3 separate regions of the Homo sapiens genome follow, and all the other regions are linked to region 1. Evidence: fine-mapped expression QTL. A gene starts in region 1. Each other region holds a variant in brackets. All regions are shown on one strand. Distances are between the middles of the regions.

Evidence for each region. PIP is the estimated chance that this variant, and not a neighbour inherited with it, causes the effect.
Region 2: its variant is fine-mapped to the expression of RIPK3 in fibroblasts (GTEx, PIP above 0.99).
Region 3: its variant is fine-mapped to the expression of RIPK3 in whole blood (TOPMed, PIP 0.96).

What each region holds. Positions count from the first base shown.
Region 1 is chr14:24,338,800-24,341,299 of GRCh38, forward strand. RIPK3 (receptor interacting serine/threonine kinase 3) reads right to left here and starts at 1,192. Exons shown (of 10, transcript NM_006871.4): 1 at 1,008-1,192; 2 at 658-798; 3 at 216-525. The coding sequence starts at 1,027. RefSeq lists enhancers at 558-627, 858-1,057, 1,078-1,147.
Region 2 is chr14:24,364,831-24,367,670 of GRCh38, forward strand. LOC124903291 (a long non-coding RNA gene) reads right to left here. Exons shown (of 2, transcript XR_007064085.1): 2 at 686-1,697. It also overlaps a transcript of NFATC4 not described here. Among named protein-coding and RNA genes, the nearest start is that of NFATC4, 1.9 kb to the right of the region's middle. RefSeq lists a silencer at 1,785-2,094. The variant T/C (reference allele first, on the strand shown) is at 1,464.
Region 3 is chr14:24,057,300-24,059,799 of GRCh38, forward strand. It overlaps CARMIL3 (capping protein regulator and myosin 1 linker 3), which reads left to right. Exons shown (of 40, transcript NM_138360.4): 15 at 504-580; 16 at 661-765; 17 at 856-925; 18 at 1,381-1,462; 19 at 1,591-1,687; 20 at 1,836-1,890; 21 at 1,971-2,143; 22 at 2,365-2,433. Among named protein-coding and RNA genes, the nearest start is that of CARMIL3, 6.5 kb to the left of the region's middle. The variant G/A (reference allele first, on the strand shown) is at 1,164.

The sequences.
Region 1 (2,500 bases):
TGGTGGAAATGACTCGTGTGGCTCAGGGCCTCTATCACCTGGTAGGCAGGAGCTAAAACTCCTGGCTGGGCTTTGTCCCCTGGCAGCCCTGTGTCCAGAGAGAGAGGCTACGCCTATTCAATAGACAGGGCTCTGGAGGTCTAGTGTCCGGCGGGCCTGGCTGGAGCAGCTCTGGGGCCTTGTCTTGAGGCTGAGAGGGGTGTAGACCAGCTGACCTTGACGTGCAGCTCTGGGTCCAGCAGGACGTTGGATGGCTTGAGGTCCCGGTGCAGGAGCACCGGGTTCTGGTCGTGCAGGTAAAACATCCCAAGCACCACTTCTTTCAGCAGGCGGCAAAGGAGCGGCCAGGGCCGAGGGCACTGGGACTGCAGCAGCCCCGACAAGGAGCCGTTCTCCATGAATTTAGTCACCAGAGCCGGCTTGGGATCTTGGTCCCAGTTCACCTTCTCGATAACCCCTTCTAGGCGCAGCACGAATTCGTTATCCAGACTTGCCATGGCCTTGACCTCCCTGGATATCGCCTTCCTACACTCCAGGAGAGAGCTGGAGTCGCACCGGGGTCGTGGGAAAATCCCTCCCTTCGCCATTCAGGCCCCAGAGCACAGTGGCTCCACCTTTTTGGCCAGATTGCGGCTGGGGTCAACCGGGGTCACTCACGAGTTTACGATCTTGACCGCCACATCGTAGCCCCACTTCCTATGTTGCGCCCGGAACACTGTGCCGAACCCGCCTTTGCCGACGAGCTCCTGGTTCTCCAGTTCCTCGATGGACACCAAGGGGGCGGGGGCACCGCTGGGCCTGAGAGAGGGGTGTCGCCCACTAGCCGGCCGTGCCGTGCCTCAGCGCTGCTCCCCGCGCCCCTGTGACTCGGCGTTCTCACTGCAATCCCCAGCCTCCCTCGCCGGCCCCCACCGTCCCCGGACTCAAAGACGTTCTCTGAGCGAGTCTGTGGGGCTCTCTGGGTGTGAATGTCGGAGGCTGCGATCGACATGCCACTCCCTACTCACCATAACTTGACGCACGACATCAGGCTGGAAGGTGCCAGGGGGCCTCTGGAAATTGCGAGCCGTAGGAGATGGAGTGACTTCTGGGGCTTGGTCCTTTCGCAGAGAGGGGAAGGGGTCTGTCTGTGCAGGGGTCAGTCTCTAGACCAAGACGGTGAGTCTACTTTCCGGGTTGTTACCCTTTTTCCGAGTTGACTGAACAACTTCCCTTATAGGCGCCTCTACAGTCCCGCCCCTGGGGTGGGGCAGGGGGCAGAGCGAAAGCTAGTGCCTTTCTCCTTGACTAGCGTTTCCTGAGCACCTGCCGCAGCCAGATTAGGTGTTGCTGGGCATTGAGGATGTTAGGGAAGGAGTCCTCACCTTCCAGGAACCCACAATCAACCCACTCCTACAGTCAAAGCCTTCCCTTTTCCCACAGGATTTCCTGCTCCACGACCTGCCAGGCCATGAGTGGAGATGGTGCTTAGGAGGGTTTTATGGTTCTAGGGCTCAGCTCTCTCACAGCTGCCCTAAGATCATAGCCAACACGTATATAAAACTTATCATGCACCAGGTATATATATTAGCTTATTTAATTCTCACACGAACCCTAAGGGGATAGGTACTGCTTTTATTACCTTTCTATAGGTGAGGAAACTGAGACACTGAGAGTTTAAGTACCTTGCCTAAGCCCATATGGAAATAATGGCTCTGAACCATCAAGTTATCCTGTTTTCACATAGGCTTCAGGGCTGTACCACTCAGCTGGTCGTGCAGGTGGCTGGGAAAGGTGTGAAGCATCCAACAATGTAGTGAAGGATCCCTATCTGTATTCCTGCCCAGTCCCTATAGCTGCTCTTGCGAGGCAAGTCTTTGGCATTGATAGGGACTTATATGCCCTTTGAACAGGAGCTCCTGGAGGTGGCAGGCCCCAAGCCCACTCCCAGGGCATTGTGGTAAGGCTAGATTTATCAGCCCATCCAGAGGGTTGGTGACATTGTGGTGTACACTACAGTGGAAACACCTCAGAGCTTTCCTGCCCTCTCCCTTGCATGACAACTCTTGCATGCAAATACCCTAATTAATGTTCCTGACAAGCACATGCTCTGGACACAGTCTTTTGATAACCCAGAAGCATGGAGAGTCTTAAAGATTTAGGGCAGAAAAAAGGTGTCCATATTTTACCTTTCTGAGGTCTGACCATGACTGGAGGTTGTGGGAACCCGATAGGGCCTGCCCTAGGCACTCAATCCTTCACAGGGATACTCAATCCTGTGGGTTGTGCGTTGGCTCTCACTAAAGGTGCTCACCTTGGTACTTGCTTTCCATTTTGTTCAGTGGTCCATGGGCTCTGCTGGTTGAGGCAGAAGTGATCTGTAGTTTTTTCTAAAACAACTCTTGGAGAGCCACACCATGGCTTCTAGCAGGGTCAGTTCATGCTATTTTGGAACTATTTAGGGAATTGTTCAACCGTAGTCTCCTTAAAAGCCAATACATGGCAGATACCCAATAAATAT
Region 2 (2,840 bases), 26 kb after region 1:
AGTATATATATAGTATATCTGTGTATATGCTATATAGTATAGTATATAGTATATCTGTGTATATGACCTCAGGCAATCCACCTGCCTGCTTTGGCCTCCCAAAGTGCTGGGATTACAGGGGTGAGCCACTGCACCCGGCCTTTTAAAATTTATTTTTAGTAGAGACAAGGCTGGCCTCTTCTCTTCAATTACATTCTCTGTGGCTATACAGATGGTCTCAGTAGGATAATATCCCAGTTGCTCAGAGTGGTGACCTGTTCTGTAGCACACCCTTGGACTGGCTTTTCTTCTTTCCAGTTTCACTTTTTCCATTCTTCTCTTTCTGTTCCTTCTGATTGCTTTTCACTATAAACTACCTACATCCTGTTCTTGTCTCAGGCTCTACTTACTGGAGGAGCCAAGCCTGGGACAGATTCCTGTGTAAAATGTGATGGAATGAATTAGCAAACTTGACAAGGACCCAGGAGGCCTGGGTTCCAGATCAACTCTATTGCTAACCTGATTTGTAAAAGTCACTTTATCTACTGAAAAGGTGGGCATTTTCATCATCATTTTCAGATGGTACTATGGGAGAAGATCTTCCAACCATTTGTTAAGTGAGGAAAAAAAAAAGCAAGAAAAATGCTTGTCACGCGCATAAAAAGAGCATGTGTGTGTGCGTACATGTTAATAAAGGCATACAAAATGGTGGACCATCAAGGTTTACTACATATTTTTGTATAGCTTGAATTGTTTACAAGAAGAATGCATATTAATTAGCTTTATTTAGACCTCTGGGGAAAAGAGAAGACTGCATCTTGTGTAATTAAAAAAAGAAATAAATAACATCCACCTCCAAGGAAGTTGAATGATGCTTGTTAAAGTGCAGAGCAGAAGCCACCAACCAAGGTAAGAAAGCCGGGTTGTGCTCCGGTATGTGCGCTAGGAGGCAGCGGAGCTGAGACCGAGGCCAGGCGGCTAGAGAAACCGCGAACCAAGGACGGGGGGGCTGGGTCTTTCTGGTCGCCAGGGGGCAGAAGTGTAGGGCAACTTAAATCCGCAACTACCCGCTGTTGCCCAGGCTCCAACGCCAGGCCGAGCATTTCAGAAGTCATAAGTTCCATCTCTCTGCCGCAGCCGAGACAGATTGGAGGGTTTTCAGAGTCAAGGGGATGCCCCCCCGCCCCCCGCCTCAGAGAAGCTTGGCACTCTGAACAATCTCAACCACTCTCCCCTCTGCTCCTCCCTTCCCTACCCCCCAACACCCATGAAGGGGAAATTGAGTCATGGGAGGAGAGGCCAGAGTCATCAGGGGAATGAGGGCCGACGCCAGCCCTCAGGGCCTTCCAGATGCTAGGAGGAGGAGGGTTCTCCAGGAAAACAAACAGGGGTGAGAGGGGAAGGCGGTTGGCTGGGCAGGAGCTGAGCCAGACACATGGAGAAACGCTGCCCAGGATCAAAGGAAATATGACATTTGAAAAGAA[T/C]GTGTGCGTCTGCATGTGCTGTGCCTGCGGGGAGTGGGGCCGGGGAGGGGCAGAGTCTGGGGGAACAGGGGCTGGGCCTCGGGGTCTCTATCCCTGCTTTTCTCGCCTCCGCTTCCCACCTCCCTTGCCCTCTTAGGTACAGGCTGGTTGATGGGTCGAGGTGTTCCTCGTCCTCCCTCCCCGTGGGTTTCTCCTTCCTTTATTTCCGAGATGAAGCTGGAAGGGAAATGTAACCTGAGGAGACCAACCAAAGGAAAAAAAAGAAAAAAAAAAGAAAAAAAAAAAAAAGAAAGAAGAAAATCAAACCAGGCCGCTTCCCCGCTCGGCCTCGGAACATTCTTCTCTCCCCGCCGGCCTGGGCTCTTCTCCCCGCCCCTCCTGTGTTGCGGCCCTGGGCTCGGAGCCGGGGCAGCTCCGCACGTCACTGGGGTCCCCGGGGACTGGGGGGGTGGTCCCCTGGGCGGGCCCGAGGGAGGACCGAGGGGAGGGAGGGAAGCCGCCTCGGCCGCTGCGGAGCTCCGGCCCGTCGGGCCAGCCCTCCCTTCTTTCCCCAGTCCCGTAGAGCCTGTTTCTCATTAGAGTAACGGGCGCGGTCCCCGCCCGGCTTCTGAGTGTTTGTAAACGTCTGACCTGGGGCCGTCGCTTAACCGTTTAGTTGCTGGGATGGGGCGGCGTTGGGGGTGCGGCCCTGAACCGGAGGGATTTAGAGACTGGAGACGCGGCCTCTAAGAGAGGTTGAAACTGTGTGTGTGTGGGAGAAAATGATAACCACCCTCCCATCTCTCCTACCCGCCAGCCTCGCCAGTATCTCCCACCGAGTCACGAATCTCCCATCTAACTCCCTCTCACACAACCCAGGCCTCTCCAAGCCTGACTTTCCCGGAAACTCCAGTCCAGGTCTTCCTTCCTCCTCCAGCCCAGGTGACAGGTGTCCAGCCTGTTGGGGGCGGGGGGGCCAAGGAGGGGGAAGAGGAGGGGAACCCACAGGGTCCGGAGGTTTCAGGCCCCTAGTAAACCTGGCAAGGATTTTTAGAAGAGCCGGAGTGGGATGCTATCGGGTCAGAGATTCATTCCAGACTACAGTTCTAGGGAGGAGGCTGCCAACTTCCCGTGGAGGCTAATTCACGGCCCCTCTGGGTGGCTGGGACAAGGGCAGCGGCAAAGCCTGGCCTGGATCTACGCCCATCAAGGGCTGTGGGCCTAGGGACAGTTCTCAAAGCCTCTTTGGCTCGGACTGCTCCCAGAGGCATCCAGGCTGGCTAAGCGTTCTTCATCTTTGGGGGTCCTGGAGGAATGGCTGATGGAGGCGCTGATTCGGCAGCGCAAAGACTTCCAGAAGGCCCGGGCAGAGTAGCCCCAGGCAAGGGAGGCGGAAGA
Region 3 (2,500 bases), 280 kb before region 1:
GGCCTCGGTCTCACCCCCTATCCCTGAGTACACAGGCGGGCAGAGCTGTCTAGATGACTTCAGGTTCAGCTGAAGTATAAAGCAATGTCCATAGTTCATACCTGTGTGGCACTTTATCCAGGTCACAAGCTTGTGCTTGCTGTGCTTAAAAGCCAGCCCTTGCTCCCTTCCCCAGCTGTGCACCCTGGCTCCACCAGGGGAATGGATGCTTTTCCTAACTTGAACAAGGCACCTTAGGAGTCAGTGGTGGCCCTGGCTTTACACATCCACTGCCTGTGAGCAGCTTCATGCCCCTGGAAGCCAGGCAGGGAGTAGACCCATGTTCCACAGGGGAGAAAACAGAGACTTCAAGAATCTGAGTGGGCATCTCCAGTGGAGCTCACACAGGCTGACCACAGAGAATGAAGAGCCAGGAACCTCGATGGGGAGGGAGGGGGAGTCCTTTCCTGCCACCCCCTACCCCCTTCCAGCTCCCCTGAGACCCACCATATCTCCCCCCACAGCTTCTCGGTGCCCTGCTCCACGGCTGCTGCTCCCACCTCACCTACCTCAACCTGGCTCGCAACAGCTGCTCCCACAGGTGGGAGAGGAGGGGGAAGGGAGGACAGGGCAAGACATGGCCAACCCCCTCCCTCGCTGACCCCAGGGGTCTCTCCACAGGAAGGGTCGAGAGGCCCCGCCGGCCTTCAAGCAGTTCTTCAGCAGCGCCTACACACTGAGCCACGTCAATCTGTCGGCCACAAAGCTGCCCCTGGAGGCCCTCAGGTCGGGTGGGTGCAGGGTTGGGGGCGCATCCAAGGGAACCACGGGGAGCGGGAAGAGGTAAAGGAGGGCCTGCTGACCTCCCTCCCACAGGGCGCTGCTTCAGGGCCTCTCCCTCAACAGTCACCTCAGTGACCTGCACCTGGATCTCAGCAGCTGCGAGGTGAGCCCTCAGTCCCCAACCCCTCTGCCCGCCTCCGATCCATGTGCATTTCTCAGACCTAAGTCAAACCCTGGCTCCATCTAGCCTCTGTGCTGACCCTCTGCGACCCCCTGACCTGGCCACACCACCACTTTCCCCTCTCAGTCTGGCCTCTTTTCCAGAGGCCATTCATTCTCAGTCTCTAGTATCTCTGCCCTTAAAGCTTTGGGGTGGGAGATACCAGACTTTTCCACCAGAG[G/A]GCAGGAGCAAGCTGTCTTAGGAATAGCAGCCTTCCTGGCCGAAGGGAGGGAAGCCAGCTCTAGGGAAGGATCTGGTGTGGGGAAAGAGTCTCCCTGATTTTACACCCAGATCCTGGCATGACTTTGAGTTCTGGTGTGACTACTATATCCTAAGCATTAAAGGTGCCCTACCCCCACCCCAACCCCTGCCTTCCCTACCTCACCTTGTCCCTGCAGCTCCGTTCAGCGGGAGCCCAAGCCTTGCAGGAGCAGCTGGGAGCTGTCACCTGTGTAGGCAGCCTGGATCTGTCAGACAATGGTGAGTAGTGGTTCCTCCCTTCCCTGGGGCCAGGGGAGAACAGGGGCCTGGAGCATGCAGAAGCAGCCCTGATGGGACACCAGTCAGCCTCAGGCCTCCAGGCCAGGCCTCTCCCATCTGCTCACCAGGGTTCGACTCGGACCTCCTGACACTGGTGCCTGCACTTGGCAAGAACAAGTCCCTCAAGCACCTGTTTTTGGGCAAGAACTTCAATGTCAAGGCCAAGTGAGGCCCCCTTTCCATGCCCACAGACCCTCATCCCATCATTCACCCATCCTCTTGGCTCACCGTATTACCTCTGGCCACCTCTCTCCTCCTCCAATAGCATGACCCCAGCCCTTCCCCTCCTACTCTGAGCCCCGCCTCCCTGCAGGACCCTGGAGGAGATCCTCCACAAGCTGGTGCAGCTGATCCAGGAAGAGGACTGTGTGAGTGCCTGGGCCTGGGAGGGGACCTGCAGTCGGAGGAGGCTGTGGGGACTGGGTCCAACCGCCCCTTGCCCACACAGTCCCTGCAGTCACTGTCGGTGGCAGACTCCCGGCTGAAGCTTCGCACCAGCATCCTCATCAATGCCCTGGGCAGCAACACCTGCCTGGCCAAGGTGGATCTGAGCGGCAATGGCATGGAGGACATCGGGGCCAAGATGCTGTCTAAGGCCCTGCAGATAAACTCCTCCCTCAGGTGGGGCCCACACCGGGACCCCCTGACCTGGAGCCCCAGCCCCTCCCCATATGTACATAATCTCCCTGCTTTCCTTGATGCTCTGGACCCCAGCTTCCAGAAGACCCCCAGCCCCAGAACCATCTCTGAGTCAGCCTTATTGCCCCAAGAGGTTTGTGTCCCTGGCCCCTAGTAGGGACCCAGGAGGAGAGGTGCCAAACTGGTGCTTACCCTCCCCCCAGAACTATCCTATGGGATCGGAACAATACATCTGCCCTGGGCTTCCTGGACATCGCAAGGGCCCTGGAGAGGTGAGTAGACCATGGTCCTGCCCTGATCCAAGTCCCCAGCCTCCCTGTGCCTGGATCAGGCCTGAAC